Linked DNA regions of Homo sapiens: region 2 is linked to region 1. Evidence: fine-mapped expression QTL. Tissue or cell type: minor salivary gland. Region 1 holds a variant in brackets; the other region holds the start of a gene. All regions are shown on one strand. Distances are between the middles of the regions.

Region 1 (8,000 bases):
TCCATCTCTGTAAAGAGGGTGGGGTTGGGAGCCTCATCTTCCTCCCCCAGGATGTCCTGGAGCTGCTCAGCAGCTGGGGACCCTGCAAAAGAGGGGCAGCAGGTCTGCTGAGTGTCCCATGGAAGGCAGGAGGACCACAAGGCCAACAGAAATGGAGTAGGAGGCAAGCACAAGGGAAAAGTATTTTCTAATTCTGTAAAACTAAGTCCAGCTCCTGGGTGATGCTGGCCTCCTGTAACCATGAATCAGAGGTGGGCGAGATACTCTTTAAGATAAAAGAGATGAAAAGATTTAGTCTGCATTCAGATCCAGGGTCTTGCAGCTGGCAGTGAAGAATGATGGGAAATGGTCGAAGCCAGGGCAGTAGCAAGAACCAGAACTGAAGAGAGAAGTGAGAAGCACTCTGACCCAACTTCAGCTTACCACCCGAGGGGGTTCTTCTTCCCACCGGGCCCCAAGCAAGCCATCCTCCAACACTGGTCTTGAAAAGGCAGTCAGCCATGCAAAAGGACAGCTTGCACACCCTTGTACCATGTGGGCCCACTTTCTTCCTGGGCAAGATGGCAGTCCATTTCCTGAGGCCCCAGCCTGCTTTCCAGCTGCCCATTGGAAGTCACTTCCTGGGTGTCTCCCAGGCACCTCAAAACTCGACATTCCTCTCCCAAACACACTTCACCTGTGTTCTTTCTCTCTTTTTCTTTCTTTTCCTTCCTTCCTTACTTTTCTTCATCTCTCTCTCTCTCCAGTGAATACCTACTATGTGCCAAATAAAGCTATGAAGAAGACCTATGTGTCCTTGCTCTCTTGAGCATGTCCTCTAGTGATAGAGACAGAGAATAAACAAGTCAACAAATCCATAAATGACCATTTCAATCATAAGTTGTCTAAAATAAACAAAATGACCAGGGGAGCTACAGTAGATAGCATGGTCACAAAAGGACTCTCTGAGGAGGGGACACTGGAGCTGTGACTTGAAAAATGAGAACGAGCCACTCTGCAGATCTGGAGGAAGAGTGCTCTGCATGTTCCAGACACCCTGTGGTGGAAACGTGCTGGTGAGTGTGGTTCAGCACGTGAGCAAGGGACAGAGAGATGGCATGATGTCAAAGTGGTGACCAATGCCATGACTAAAGGCATCCCTGCCCACCCCACTGCACAGGCTAGACACCCTGGAGTCATCATTACCTCACCTCCCTTCCCCTCATCTTCACACTCATATTGAAATTTTCAGGAACCCCACTGCCCTGCCCCGACGCAATCTCTCGTTCACTGTCTCCTGGGCCTCATCAGGTCTTCCCTTCCTCCAGCCTGTTTCCTCAGTTCATCATTCCCTTCTGTCCTCACTTATTTCTTCATGGACCTCTACTCTTTTCTTCATCACATCCTCCATTCTTTCCCCTTGACTTCCCAATCAAACCAGCCAGGCAATGCCCAAACAAGAATTCACTGGCCCAGTCTCCTCTGCAGGTGTGTCTGAGGGCTTGGGCTGGGGGATGGCTGGGGTGGGGATGGCAGCACGGAGTGGTAGTGTGGTGGAATCAAATAGAATCCCAATCCAGCTAGACAAGGGTGTGAGTCTCGGGGCTGCCACTTATTCACAAGCGAACTCAGTTGAGTGAGCAGGACTGCTGGGAGGAATACAACAGGTAAGAGAATGAAATGCCTGACACAGGGCTTGGAAGGTAACAGCTGCTTAGCCCCTCACCACCAACACCCACATCCAGGCCCATGAGCCCCACTGTAAGGGTTTCCCCTCAGCAAGTCTCAAGTGCGGCATCCTTCCATGCATCCTTGTCAGCGCCCTCACTGTGTCCCTCAAGGCTGTCCCTAACCTTTGCTCCTCTCTTCAAGCTTCTTGATTCAACTCCTACCCCACTTCACCAAGAGAATAAAGGCCTCCAGGCATGAAATCCATCAACATCCTTTCTTCCATCCCCTCAACTCTTTCAGATCCTTATTTCATCAGCTAGTCTTTCTTCACCTGGATCTTCAACTTCCCTCTCTCCACCCTCTTTCTCTCAGCCTAGAAACAGCTCTTCCTACCCAAGACAGGTTCCCTGACCCTGCCTGTCTCCTTAGCTCTCCTGCTTGCCTTCTTCTTTCTTTTACCCATACTTCCTAAAGTAGTGGTCTGTGCTCATGGTCTCCATCTCCTCCTTGCCCAATCAGTTCCCGGCCTGCTGCCACTGGCTCAGCCCCCACCACGCTAAGGACATTGACAAAGGCAGAGGTTTCAAACTGACAGTTCAAAGGTGTGTTTAATTCAGGCCTCGCAGAGTATGAAATTTTTTGAAAGTATTGCTAAGATAAAGAATTGTAAGATTTCATATAGAAATCCAGATCTCTGACTTTTCTTGAAAAGTCAGATGTTCTGATCACTGTGCCCACGTTCCTGCTTGGCAACAATCCATGAGAGTTGATGATGGTGCCTTCTTAGGTAAACATATGCTTTTTAGTTTGCCACAGTCCCCACTACTTCTTACTGGTGTCCCGTTAATCTCACTTATTGCCATGCACCCAAATTCACAACCCCTGCCCTCAGATCCCTCTTGTTATTTTAATTGTCAAACCAATAAGCTAATAAAATCAATCAAACCAACAGCACTGAGAAGCTATGGTCTGGCTTATCTCTCTGGAACTTCAGAGGTGATCATCGCCGCTCTGAACTGAAATGTGACTTATGGCTCTTATAACGTGGCAGTTTCTTGATATTTTCCCTCTTTGAAGATTCTCTCTCAATATCTTTCCCTAGTTCCTCTTGCCTGGCTAACACTTAAATCTTGATCTTGCCCAGGATTCTGCTTCATCTTGTTCTCTCTTCTCTCTCCACACTCCTTCTGGGCTAGCTCACGTTATTTGTGGTGTCATTTTATAAATGAGGTCACCCTTGTGTCCAGGCAATACACCCATGTGTATTGAACATTCCAACTGACAATTGGACTGCTCCTTTTGGAAGCTCGGCAGCCTTCTCAAGTCAACCTCAACATATTCAAAACAGCTCTGCATCCCTTCTCCCATCAACCCAGCCCTGCTCTCCTCTGTTTTTATTAATAGCACCTCTAGCCACCTACCCATCTAGACAATGCTGGACTCATTCCTGAAGCTCCTTCTTTTTCACAATTCATGTCCAACTGGACACTAATGTCTTTCATTTGCTTCATAAACATTTTTTGGCTCTCTCCTTTTTTCCCCACCCATT[G/T]CCACCATCTTGGTTCTGGCTCTCATCATCTGCTCCTATCACTGCAATAGCCACCTACTGTTGCCATTGCCTCTGGTTGTCCCATTTAATCCCATTCCCTATGTAGCAGTAGAGTGTGCTTTTAAAACATTTCAAACATGTTCACACAATGGGCTCCTGGGAGTCATGGTTCTCTTTGAATAGCACCATAAAACACTATACATATGAGTTAGAAATCATTTTACTAGCAGAACACACTATTATCTACAGAACTCATGGACTCATGTATTTAAATGAATTTTAAATTTCTCAATTTTTCTATTACTTTTTTTTTTTGAGACAGAGTCTCACTCTTTTGCTTAGGCTGGAGTGCAGTGGCACAATCTTGGCTCACTGCAACCTCCACCACCTGGGTTCAAGTGATCCTCCCACTTCAGCCTCCAGAGCAGCTGGGAGTACTAGCTCATGTCACCATGCCTGGCTAATTTTTGTATTTTCTGTAGAGACGAGGTTTCACCATGTTGCCCAGGCTGGTCTCGAACTCCTGAGCTCAAGAAATCCACCTGCTTCAGCCTCCTAAAGTGCCAGGATTAAAGGTATGAGCCACTGGACCCAGCCTATTACTTTTAACTTACATCCTTTCCATTGTCTTATTGATTGCTGGCGCTTGCTAGCAGACACCAAATGTTTAAAGAAATTTTATAGACAAAAAACCAACAATTGAGAAAATAACCTTATTTTTTCTTAAAATTGAGAAAACTGTGACTGCTTGATTCTGAGGGGCCATACCAATTCTCCCTGGGATCAGAAATCAGTAACTACTCTTTTAAAATGTAGATTTGATGTACCTTGGAGGATGGCATGAAAAAGAAAATAAAATATAAAATAAAATAAAATGTAGATTTGATTATGTTATTCACCAGTTGAAAAACTTTCAATGTCTCTCTATTGCCTAAAGCCTAGGGGTCAGTGACATGGCTCAAACCACCCCTCATAATATAGCCCTAACCTGCCTTTCTAGGTTCTAGCATGTCCCTCACCCAGCCACCCCGACCCCAGCCACAGCAGACCACATCCCTGAAGAGGAGGGCATGCTACTCCTTGGGCCCCTGTGCCTGCCATTCCCTAAGTCTGGAATCCCCTTTCCCCTTCAAGGCCAGACAAGAAGGCAAATAAATGGACAGGTCCTGGAGAGAGGAGACAGGCAGAGAGCAGGATGCAAACCAGTTCTGCCTGGGGCATTACCTGCTCCCTGGAACAGCTGAGCGCTGGGGTCCCTGGCTGTCGATGCTGCCTCTGGCCCCAGCCTGCTTCCGCTGCTGCCTCCCTGGCTGCTACTTCCACAGGTCCTCTTCTTCACACAACAAACTCACTTTTGTTTCCAGTTAAGCACCAGGGGAGGTGTGGGGAGAGAAGAAGGGGGGTTTGAGGGGAGAAAAAGAGAGAGAGAAAAGGAATGTGTGAAGGACTGGGGAGGTGGAGAGAGAGGCTATATGTAGAGAGAATATAGGTGTGGTAAGTGTAAGTGTGAGAAAGATTATGCAAAAGTGTTTGAGAGAGAAAAGCTACACTGAGTTAATTAAAGATCTGAGAGAGAGAGAGACAGAGAGAGAGACAGAGAAGTGAGAGAGAGAGAGAGAGAGAGAGAGAGAAGTGAGCAAGAGAGAGAGAGAAGTGAGAGGGTGAGAGAGAAATCTCAGGTGCACTAGAGAGAGAAAGGCTCAGTGGCTGCAGCAGAACCTCAAGCAGGAAGCCGGGTCTCCACAGCAGCAGGGGTGGTGGCAGCTGAGGACCTGTGAGAGGACTGGCAAAACTGCCCCTTTACCCCCTTCCCCATGAGTGCTTCCTATGTGCCTGTGGTCTCTAGGAGAGCCCAGGATCCTCTCTGCAGGCCCCTTTATAAAGGCAGGGGTAGGATGTGCTGTGAGATTCCCCAGGGCCTCCTTAGGAGCCTTGGTGGCAGGTGAGCTGGCTGGAGAGGAACCTAGCAGGGCCCTTCCTCTCCACCACACAGCCCCAAAGGTGGAGTGGGGTTGCTGGAGGGGAGTGTTTGCTGTGGGGTCTCACACTGACCAAGCAGTGCTCGATAATGTGCTATGTAGCTGGTTTCTTTCCTCCCCAACTTTAAACCCAAACTCCTGATACACTTCCTGTTCCTCCACCTCTCAGGCAAAGTGCCAAGTGTCACCACTCGGCAGGTGTTTTCTGAGAGCCCACGGACAGTGGAAGCTCGTCACTTCAGAGTGTGAGGTAAACTCCACTGGGGAATTATTTTGCTCTTCTGAGAAACTCCTAATCTCCTGGGTTTGGTTTAACAAGTGCTTACTGAGTACTTAGAATGTGCCAAGGTTGATTGGAGGTCACTGAGTGGTGGCTGCTCCAGGGAGTTACAAACCCTGAATTCACTAAGTCTTAGAGCTGGGAGGGAGCTTAGTGATGGTCAAGTCCAAACCCTTCATTTCACGGATGAGAAAACCAAGACCCAGTTTACCCCATAGGCCCCCTAGGCCCCAACACAGGTTAGCAGAGCCTGGGGGAGAACAGACATCTGACATTCTCCCCCTACACTGCCCCATTGAGGCTGGCTCCACTGGTGACATTTTCATACCTGAGGCTCGAGGATCAAGTACGCCCATTTTATTATTTTATTTTTAGAGACAGGGTCTTGCTATGTTTTGCAAGGCTGGTTTTGAACTCCTGTGCTCAGACAATCCTTCCGCCTCAGCCTCCCATAGTGTTGGGATTACAGGTGTGAGCCATCACACGTGGCCACAAGTATGCCCGTTTTAAAGCTGAGAAAACAGAAGCAGAGGACACCAGGCCCTGCCTGAGGGTCCCAGGCTCTGCAGCTTCCACTGCACTGTGGCTGAGGTTGACCCAGCTCCTTCTGAGTGGCCACAGCAGGCCACACCAAGTCAGGCCCTGTGGGTGGCCTCAATACCCAAAAAAAGATGGCCAAGGATCCCAAAAAGACCCTCTTTATTCATGTGGTGTTTTAAGAGCCCAGACCTGGGCTCAACTCCAGACTCTGCTATTACTAGCAGTAGGATCCTGGCAAGACATCAAGCTCCCACTGAGCCTTAGTTTCCTCATCTATGAAGCGGTAATAATCACGCCCCCCTCACTGGACTGTGGCAGGGATTCAATGAGATAATACATGTAATGTGACTGGCTGGCACAGCACTCGTGTACACCAGTCACTCAATAGGTGATATTGCTATTATTGTTGATGCCAGCAGGTGAGATGCTTCCTCTGTTACTACCAGTTACCAGCCTGTTCCCTCTAAACATTCCAAGGGCCCAATCCTTCTCAGCTTCTAGACTCCATGCTCCTCCCATGCTACCTCTGGCCCTCCATCCCAGGCCCCTACGCTGTCTCTGCCCCTCCCTTCTGCCCACAGAAGGTTTAGCTCACCACATGCTGGGCCACTGGGTCAGGGTTTCTCTAATGCCCTGCGGATCCCACATGTGTGCAGCACGTCAGAAGTTAATCCACATAATGAGAAATGCCACAGGTAATAGCCCCTCTGTTCTATAGCTAACAGCAAGAGTCACAAAGTGCCAGCCCAACTATAGGAATGGATTCTAACAGCAGTTGCTGGGAGAAACATAACCTCCATGGGGACCGCTTCAGGAGGCACACTAAAGCCACACAAAGAATCATGCTTTTACTGGGTGGGGACTGACTTAGCACAAAATGATCTAGTGGCCTGCAAACTAGCAAGCAGTGTGGACTTCAACTCTTAGTAAAGATCTGGGAGCCATTATGGCCATCTGGAAGTCAACATCAGGACACGATCCTGGGGTCCTCAGCTCTGGGCAAGTCCTTTCAGACATTCTCTCTCTCATCGGCTCCCTGATGGGTGGCTACACGGTCAGCTTTGTGAGGTCAGGGCCTATCTTGTTCACATCGCACTGCTGGCCCCTGACATGGGTTCACACAGCATGTGTACTCAATGCATATTTGCTGGGTGAATGGATTTGACTGCCTGACACTCGGGAGTATATTTGCTGAGGCTGGCCTCAGCAAGAGAGGAGCCAAGAACAAGGAAATGGAGCTGAGGGTGAAGCAGAGGGGGCAGGGATGGGGGGATTCGGGTGACTCCAGGCCACTGACTATTGGGGACTGGGAGAGGGAACCCAAAGGAGCCAAAACCATTCTTGCCAACTGTGTGAAGTAGGTCTTGGAGGCCCTGAGTCCTAGTTTCATGGGCAATAACATTCTTTTTCTAGAAGGCTGTATACAAACTCCAAGTGTGCCCTCTGAGAGAGGAAGAGGAGAGAATCTGCTGACTTGCTGTGTTCACGGGAATCCTTCCTGGGGTGGGTGGCTTTGGAATGTCTGCCCAGCCCATGTCCCCTCCTCCCATAAGGATGACCCTGGGCAGCTGTATTTGTGTGACATGTGACCTGTGCTCCTGGCCACAATGAATTGGAGCAGGAATGGTTCATTGGACACCTGTCCCAAGCCTGTGAATTTTGAATTGGGTCTCTGAGTTAGCTGGGCCTTTCCTGATGGTTTCTGGGAGACAGAGCTGGTAAATGGAAGAGGCAGAAAGGGCTGGGCTGCAAAGAGAGGAAGCAGCCTAGAGGCGAAGCTGTGGGAAAGGGCTGTGTACACCCAGAGAGGGGGCTGAGAAGGCACTGCGCTCACCCACTTGAGCCCGGCTCTTCGTTTTGCTTTGGGACTGTGAGAAACTCCTTTGTTCTTGTAATATAAACAATCTCTCCCCACACCCCTTCTCTCTCTGCTTCCCCAAGCCAGTTCAAATAGGTTTCTGGCATTGTGATAAAATTACCTTCTTAATCATGAGTCCCCTTT
Region 2 (8,141 bases), 860 kb after region 1:
AAAAAGAGAAACATGCTATAATTTAATTACAATTTGGTGAGGTAGGAACTTTAATAAGCATATGCTCTAATACGGTTTGGCTGTGTCCCCACGCAAATCTCAACTTGAATTGTATCTCCCATAATTTCCATATGTTGGGAGGGACCCAGGGGGAGGTAATTGAATCATAGGGGCCTGTCTTTCCCATGCTTTTCTTGTGATAGTGAATGAGTCTCATGAGATCTGATGAGTTTATCAGGGGTTTCTGCTTTTGCTTCTTCCTCATTTTCTTTTGCTGCCACCATATATGAAGTGGTACCAGTGAATCTCCTGCCATGATTGTGAGGCCTCCCCAGCCATGTAGAACTGTAAGTCCAATTAAACTTCTTTTTCTTCCCAGTCTTGGGTATGTTTTTTATAAGCAGTGTGAAAACAAACAAATACAATAAACTGGTACCAGTAGAGTGGGGCATTGCTGAAAAGATACCTGAAAATGTGGAAGCGACTTTGGAACTGGGTAACAGGTAGAGATTGGAATAGTTTGGGAGGGCTCAGAAGAAGACAGAAAAATGTGGGAAAGTTTGGAACTTCCTAGAGACTTGTTGAATGGTTTTGCCCAAAATGTTGATAGCAATATGGACAATAAAATCCAGGCTAAGGTGGTCTCAGATGGAGATGAGGAACTTGTTGGGAACTGGAGCAAAGGTGACTCTTGTTATGTTTTAGCAAAGAGATTGGTGGCATTTTGCCCCTGCCCTAGAGATTTGTGGAACTTTGAACTTGAAAGAGCTGATTTAGGGTATCTGGCAGAAGAAATTTCTAAGCAGCAAAGTAATCAAGAGGTGACTTGGATGCTGTTAAAGGCATTCAGTTTTATAAGGGAAGCAGAGCATAAAAGTTTGGAAAATTTGTAGTCTGACTATGCGATAGAAAAGAAAAACTCATTTTCTGGGGAGAAATTCAAGCTGGCTGCAGAAGTTTGCATAAGTAGCAGGGAGCCTAATGTTAATCCCCAAGACCATGGGGAAAATGTCTCCAGGTCATGTCAGAGACCTTCATGGCAGCCCCTCCGATCACAGGCCCAGAGGCCCAGAAGGAAAAAGTGTTTTTGTGGATCTGGCCCAGGGTCCCTGTGCTGTGTGTAGCCTAGGGACTTGGTGCCCTGTGTCCCAGCCACTCCAGCTGTGGCTGAAAGGGGCCAATGTACAGCTTGGGCTGTGACTTCAGAGGATGCAAGCCCCAAGCCTTGGCAGCTTCCACATGGTGTTGAGCCTGCAGGTGCACAGAAGTCAAGAATTGAGATTTGGGAACCTTTGCCTAGATTTAGGAAGACGTATGGAAGTACCTGGATGCCCAGTCAAAAGTTTGCTGCAGGGGTGGGGCCCTCATGGAGAAACTCTGCTAGGGCAGTGTGGAAGGGAAATGTGGGGTTGGAGCCCCCACACAGAGTTCCTACTGGGACACTGCCTAGTGGAGCTGTGAGAAGAGGGCCACCATCCTCCAGACCCCAGAATAGCAGATGCACCAACAGCTTGCACCATGTACCTGGAAAAGGCTGTAGACACTCAACACCAGCCTGTGAAAGTAGCTGGGAGGGAGGCTGTACCCTGCAAAGCCACAGGCATGGAGCTGCCCAAGACCATGGGAACCTACCTCTTGCATCACTGTGACCTCGATGTGAGACCTGGAGTCAAAGGAGATCATTCTGGAACTTTAAAATTTGACTGCCCATTGGATTTCAGACTTGCATGAGCCCTGTATTGTTTTGGCCAATTTCTCCCGTTTGGAATGGCTGTATTTACCCAATATCTGTACCCCCATTGTGTCTAGGCAGTAACTAGCTTGCTTTTGATTTTACAGGATCATAGGTGGAAGGGACTTGTCTTGCCTCAGATGAGACTTCGGACTGTGGGTTAATGGGTTAATGATGAAATGAGTTAAGACTTTGGGGGACTGTTGGAAATGCATGATTGGTTTTGAAATGTGAGAACATGAGATCTGTAGGGCCCAGGGGCTGAATGATATGGTTTGGCTGTTTCCCTACCCAAACCTCAATTTGATTTGTATCTCCCATAATTCCCACGTGTTGTGGGAGGAACCCAGGGGGAGGTAATTGAATCATGGGGGCCAGTGTTTCCCATGCTGTTCTCATGATAGTGAATAAGTCTCATGAGATCTGATGGTTTTATCAGGGGTTTCTGCTTTTGCTTCTTCCTCATTTTCTTTTGCCGCTGCCAAGTAAGAAGTGTCTTTCACCTCCCCCCATGATCCTGAGGTCTCCTAGCCATGTGGAGCTGTAAGTCCAATTAAACTTCTTTTTCTTCCCAGTCTCAGTTATGTCTTTATCAGAAGTGTGAAAATGGACTAATACATGCTCCGAGGCTGAGAGTTAAAGTGTCAGATGTCTGATTCCTTCTAAATCTGAAAACAGGAAGCTTAACAGTTGGTACATAGTAGATGCTCAATTAATGCTTAATAAATGATTGATAAATATCACTAAACAGGTGTATAGATCACAGCTCTCTTAGTCACCCCAATGCATTCCCATTAGAGAAATTCACTGCTAAGGGGTTGTTCCTTAGGAGAATAGACTGTACACCTCACTCTACCATTTCTAGTGGGTGGATCAAAGGCTATTAATTCCAAAGAAAGATGGGGCCAAGACTTCTTTTTTGTTTGTTTGTTTGGTATTTTGTGAGACGGAGTCTCATTCTGTCACCAGGCTGGAGTGCAGTAGCGCAATCTCGGCTCACTGCAACCTCTGCCTCCTGGGTTCCAGTGATTCTCCTGTTTCAGTTTCCCGAGTAGTGGGACTACAGGCGTGCACCACCACGCCTGGCTAATTTTTGTATTTTTTAGTAGAGATGGGGTTTCACTATATTGGCCAGGCTAGTCTTGAACTCCTGACTTTGTGATCTGCCCACCTTGGCCTCCCAAATTGCTGGGATTACAGGCGTGAGCCACTGCACCAGCCTAAGACTTCTTATAAGAGTTCTTTTAGGCAAAAGCTCAGCAGAGGGCAGGGTAGGAACAATACACAATCACCTTGACTGAGTCTAACAAGATGCTATGGCAAGAAAGCACAGGAATTGTCAGAAATCTTTTCTGAAGGCATCCAAGCCTCAGTGGGATGTTATGAAAGACTGCTTCTCAGAAGATAGTCCTGACACCTAAGTGGGTGACTGAGCTAGAACCAGCTACTCACTTGCTGAGAATTATTGACCTCTCTTGTGAAATGTCAATATTGACTGACTGCACTCTGAGCTGTGCTGTTAAAGGCGTTCAGTTTTACAAGGGAAGCAGAGCATAAGGTCTGATGTCTCTTCCAGATCTGATGACCTAAGATTTGTTTATAGGATCAGGAAAAAAACCCATTAAAATACATCTCTTAATTCTTAGAGTATTATTGAAATTGTGTACAACTTGGAGAGAAGCAATGGCAAAACTTCTGAAATTCACCTGGCACATTCCCTGTTTCCTTCCATGTGGCTGCTAACCCTTTTAAGTTGTGAAGACAGAGGATCCAGGTGGACCAACCAGGGATGCAAAAGGGAGGAGGTGGTTTTAACTCCTGTGTGCAAGGATTTAATTCCTCACGTATCCTCTCTTCCTATTCAAGCTAATTCCAGGTCATCAGTGTACTCTAAGTATTCTAATCAGATTCATTAAATTTTTTTTCCTGGAATCACTGATGGTGGGCAGCACTATTGAGCTTTATTCAGGGTGTGGGACTGAGGTCTCTCCATGAGGCCATTCACTTTTGATAAGGAAACTGGCCTCACTATAGGAGTTCAGTAAAGGCCCAGCTTGCTGGCTCACTGATTAATTGAAGGGCGGGGGTGTGGGGCTTGCTGTGCACAACTAAAGTTCACTTGGATGCCCCCCTCACTGCCCAAAGCAATGCTTGGCCTACAGGAAGCTGAGCCTGCTGCTGCCTTCCTCCCGGCTCCTGGCTCCCTCGGGATCTGAACACTCAGGGTCATGCTGTTGCTGCCCAAGCAGGAAAATCCTGTTTCTGAAAATCCCAAACAACAAACAGCTCCCCTACAGAGCTCATGGGGGAGTAGTCAGAACCTCCAGACTGAGCATGTCACAAGGAAGGACTGCTTTGCTGAAGCCACTCACTCCGGGAGATTTATAATTGGAAGTTTGGCCCAGGGAGATAATCAGCCAAGAGCGCGCACGCACACACACACACACACACACACACACACACACACACACACTCTGAAGAAACCCAGTGGAGATTCAGCACTAACCCACCACACACACACACACACACACACACACACACACACACACTCTCTGAAGAAACCCAGTGGAGATTCAGCACTAACCCAGCACAGGTGAGTGAGAAATTACAACCTGTCAGCCAATGAGCCATGGTGATTCCCTCTGAAGAGGGTTTCCCAGCTATCATTCCCTTTCATCCCCACTGTAAGTTAGGCCCTCGTGCATGTTGCCTGGACTGTGGCTGGAGTCTCCTAACTGTCTTGTCTTCTCTGGGTTTTCTGGCCCCAGGTCTCTCCCTGTCTATCTACCCTGCATCCCTGCTGCTGTTGGAAGAGTCCCCTAAAAGACCTTCTCCACAGCACTGCTTAGCTCCTGGTACTCCCTTATCCCTCCTTTCGGCCCATCCTCTGCCACTGGCTTCCAAGTTCGCATTTGGCCTGCTCCCTACCTCAGTCCTGGGCAGTGAGGCAGGAAGCTGCCTTTCTCCTCCAGATGAGTCTGTGCTCTGCCTCTCTCCTTTGCGTCTCCAAATTCACACTGAGCATGAACATCTCTGACCTCACCTTTTCAAACCAAATGAAAGGGCTGCATAAGGACAACTTAGTTTATTTTGGAAGGCTGTTACACTTTGACCTCCATTTAAAAAACAAACAAAAAAATCTAAAAACCCCAAAACGTTGAGGGACTGTTCCCAAGCCCCAGCATCTTTGCCCCATCCTCAAGCCTTCCAGGACCCTCTCTCCATTCTTGGGATTGCAGCTCCTAACGTAGTTCTCCTCTTCAGCTCAAGGACAATTCTAACTGTCTTCTTGCCTGGTATGGCTTAATGAGCCTCAAGCTCACTTAGCATCATCTGGATTTAATTTCCTCTCTTGCCGTGAGCAACCTTGGCTCATCTTTCTGCCTCTCTTCTCCTCTCCTCTTTTTCCTGTCTCCCCCTCCCTTTGCTTACATGCCCTTCTTCCCCCTTTCTCTCCTCTCTCTATCTCTACCTCTCTAATGTCCACAAGTGCCTCACAACTGCCCCATTCAACCCCCACCTGAGTATCACCAGCTCTTCTGGTCCAGCTCACCTGTAAAATCTCTATTCCATCCAGAGAGGCCACCATCTCCTGTTCTAAGGGTCACATAGCTCAGATACAGACAAACAAGGTCAGGACAACCACCCTCCTGCCTTGGAAAATCACCAATTACCCTCCATTATTATATTTCTTGTGAAGCTACATTTACATTTTATCATATCCACATAACAAGAGAGAGAGTTTTAAAAAGGAGAGTGGTCAAATGTATGTCAAGAGACATAGAAACACTTAGAATAATGTAGACAGAACAGATAGCTGGAGTTATTAGAAGGTTATTGGAGACCATCAAAAAGGAATCAAGATGGTTTAGGATATATTCTATTATTCTAACTCAGGATTGGTAAATTATGGCCCATAGGCCAAAGCTGGCCTGCTGCCTATTTTTTTATATGGCTTCTGAGTGAAGAACAATTTTTACATTTTTAAATGATTGAAAAAAATAAAAAGAAGACTATTTCACAAGTAAAAATTCTATGAAATTCAAATTTCAGTGTCCATAAGTTAAGATATCCTGGAACACAGTCACACTATTTGTTTACATATTGTCTATGGCTGCTTTTGTGCTATAACACAGAGTTGAATAGTGTGACAAATATCATATTGTGCATACAAATTATTGTGGTGGGTCCTCGATATGATAACAAGTATTCTTGTAAGCGATAGAAGAGGAGAAGAGACATACAGAGGACAAGGCCATGTCACAACAAGTGGAGACTGGAATTATGCAGCCACAAGCCAAGGAACCTCTGGAACCACCAGAAGCTGGAAATGGCAGGTAAGAATTTACCCAAGAGGCCGGGCGCGGTGGCTCATGCCTGTAATCCCAGCACTTTGGGAGGCCAGGGCGGGCGGATCACAAGGTCAGGAGACCGAGACCATCCTTACCAAAAATACAAAAAAAAAAAAAAAAAAATTAGCCGGGCATGGTGGCAGGCCCCTGTGGTCCCAGCTACTCAGGAGGCTGAGGCAGGAGAATGGTGTGAACCTGGGAGGCAGAGCTTGCAGTGAGTGGAGATCATGCCACTGCCCTCCAGCCTGGGTAACAGAGCGAGACTCCGTCTCAAAAAAAAAAAAAAAAAAAGAAAGAATTCTACCCAAGAGTGTCTGGAGGCAGCACAGCCCTTCCAACACCTCGATTTTGGACTTCTGGTCTACATAACAGTGAGAAAATAATTTTCTTTTGTTTCAAGCCACCCAGTTTGTGGTAATTTGTTATAGCAGCCCTAGGAAATGAATATACTGGTCTTTCATACAAAGTTTACCAACCCCTGTTTCAATCTGTCTTTCTACATTGGATTTGGGTATGCTCATTAGTGTCTAGTTTTCTTCTAAATGAAGTAAAGAGATAGTGAAATGTAGGGATACACTGCATTTCCATTAAAATGACTAAGAGAATGAGAAAGAATGCTCAGCACTATGAAGCTGACAGCTCTTCTCCTCCCATGATGGAGATGGGAGTCGGGGCTGGGTGCTCCATCCATTTCTCCAAAGGACTCATGTCTCCCATGCATTCCAGCTGCTGACCTGGATCAATGGTTTTCAGAAACAGAGGCTAGAAGGGATTATCTCATCAGCTTGTATTCAGGTCTGTGGTAGTGGCAGGGCAGGGGTTGGGGGATTGATAAGGAGGAGGATGAAGAAGGAAAGGCACCACCGTGGAGCAAACTGGTAACTGAGACTTGGAGGAAAGCTAGACCCTTCTCCTCCAAGTCTAAACAAATTCCCTTTCCTTTCATTTTCCTTACTACCATCTGCCCACTGTAGTCCTCCTCACCCACCTATGGAAGCAAGGCTTACCCAGTGACTTTGGGTAGGTACTCAAGCTTCTCTTTCCTACTCTCCCAAAAGAGAGGACTCAGGTCCTGACAAACAAGCATCATAACGACCTACGAAGACAGGATTTGACATAGGAAAATCAGAGCTTGCATTGTTAAGAGTTAAGAAGGGGGATTGTACCCACCTTGTTCCTCCACCTGTTCACAAACAATGTGTCAAAGAAGGGGCAGGTAAGTGGCCAGGCAGCCCTGAAATAGCCTGGGGCCAGGACTGTGACAAATACTCACTGGGAACATCCCCCACCTAAGGGTTGAAGTCAGGAAGAGGAGTGCCCTGTCCTTACACTAGATGGAACTGTTCCTCTATAAAAAAGAAGAAGAAATAAAACCTGATACATGTATTAATCTTATTCAGGGAGATGTGGGTTTTAAGCAATTCAAATATTTCATTCTGTTCTTTCAGTTCTGCCTACTGGCCATTATCAGGAAGATGTGGGAAATAGACTGAAAGAAAATCTTCTGATTATTGAAAGAGAATTTACAGCAGCAAAACAATTTGCAGTGTTTCTACCTAGAGACAGGGAAGTAAGAGAATCTGAGTCCAAGTCCCCACCAAAAAGAGCTTTAGTTTAGAGCCTGTTTCTCAAGAAACTTGCATATGCACACATGAGTTTGGGAAATTCTCATTATTACCTCATAGGTTAGGTCTAAACCTTATTTTAAGACTGAGAAATGGAAACCTAGCTGTGTGAAGAATGCATCAAAGATCATAGAGATGGTTAAGGGCAAAGAGAATACAAGACTCCAACTATGACCCAACTGGGTCCTCCAACACTTTTTACTATCTTTGGATCTGATTCACTTCGGGTAAATGTCTCCTGAGATCTTCCTATGGACGAAGATCGAGCATTTATCGGAAAAGCATTACTCTAGGCAACTATGTAATCAGTAGAATTTTAATTTGACCAAGTGGACATGGAGAGATTTCCACAGCTTATTAACTTTCCCTTGCTCTCTGCCTTTTTCCCAGGCAGAAAATGCATATTATGTATTCCCAGTGTCTGGCTTAATA

What was found. PIP is the estimated chance that this variant, and not a neighbour inherited with it, causes the effect.
Region 2: TACR1-AS1 starts here. The variant in region 1 is fine-mapped to the expression of TACR1-AS1 in minor salivary gland (GTEx, PIP above 0.99).

The regions. Positions count from the first base shown.
Region 1 is chr2:74,285,821-74,293,820 of GRCh38, forward strand. SLC4A5 (solute carrier family 4 member 5) reads right to left here. Exons shown (of 31, transcript NM_133478.3): 8 at 1-82. Among named protein-coding and RNA genes, the nearest start is that of SLC4A5, 54 kb to the right of the region's middle. RefSeq lists a silencer at 955-1,089 and enhancers at 3,957-4,457, 4,458-4,958, 4,703-4,762. The variant G/T (reference allele first, on the strand shown) is at 3,200.
Region 2 is chr2:75,150,247-75,158,387 of GRCh38, forward strand. It overlaps TACR1-AS1 (TACR1 antisense RNA 1), which reads left to right and starts at 4,072. Exons shown (of 4, transcript NR_168010.1): 1 at 4,072-4,325; 2 at 5,958-6,069. All of the region lies in intron 1 of TACR1 (tachykinin receptor 1), which reads right to left.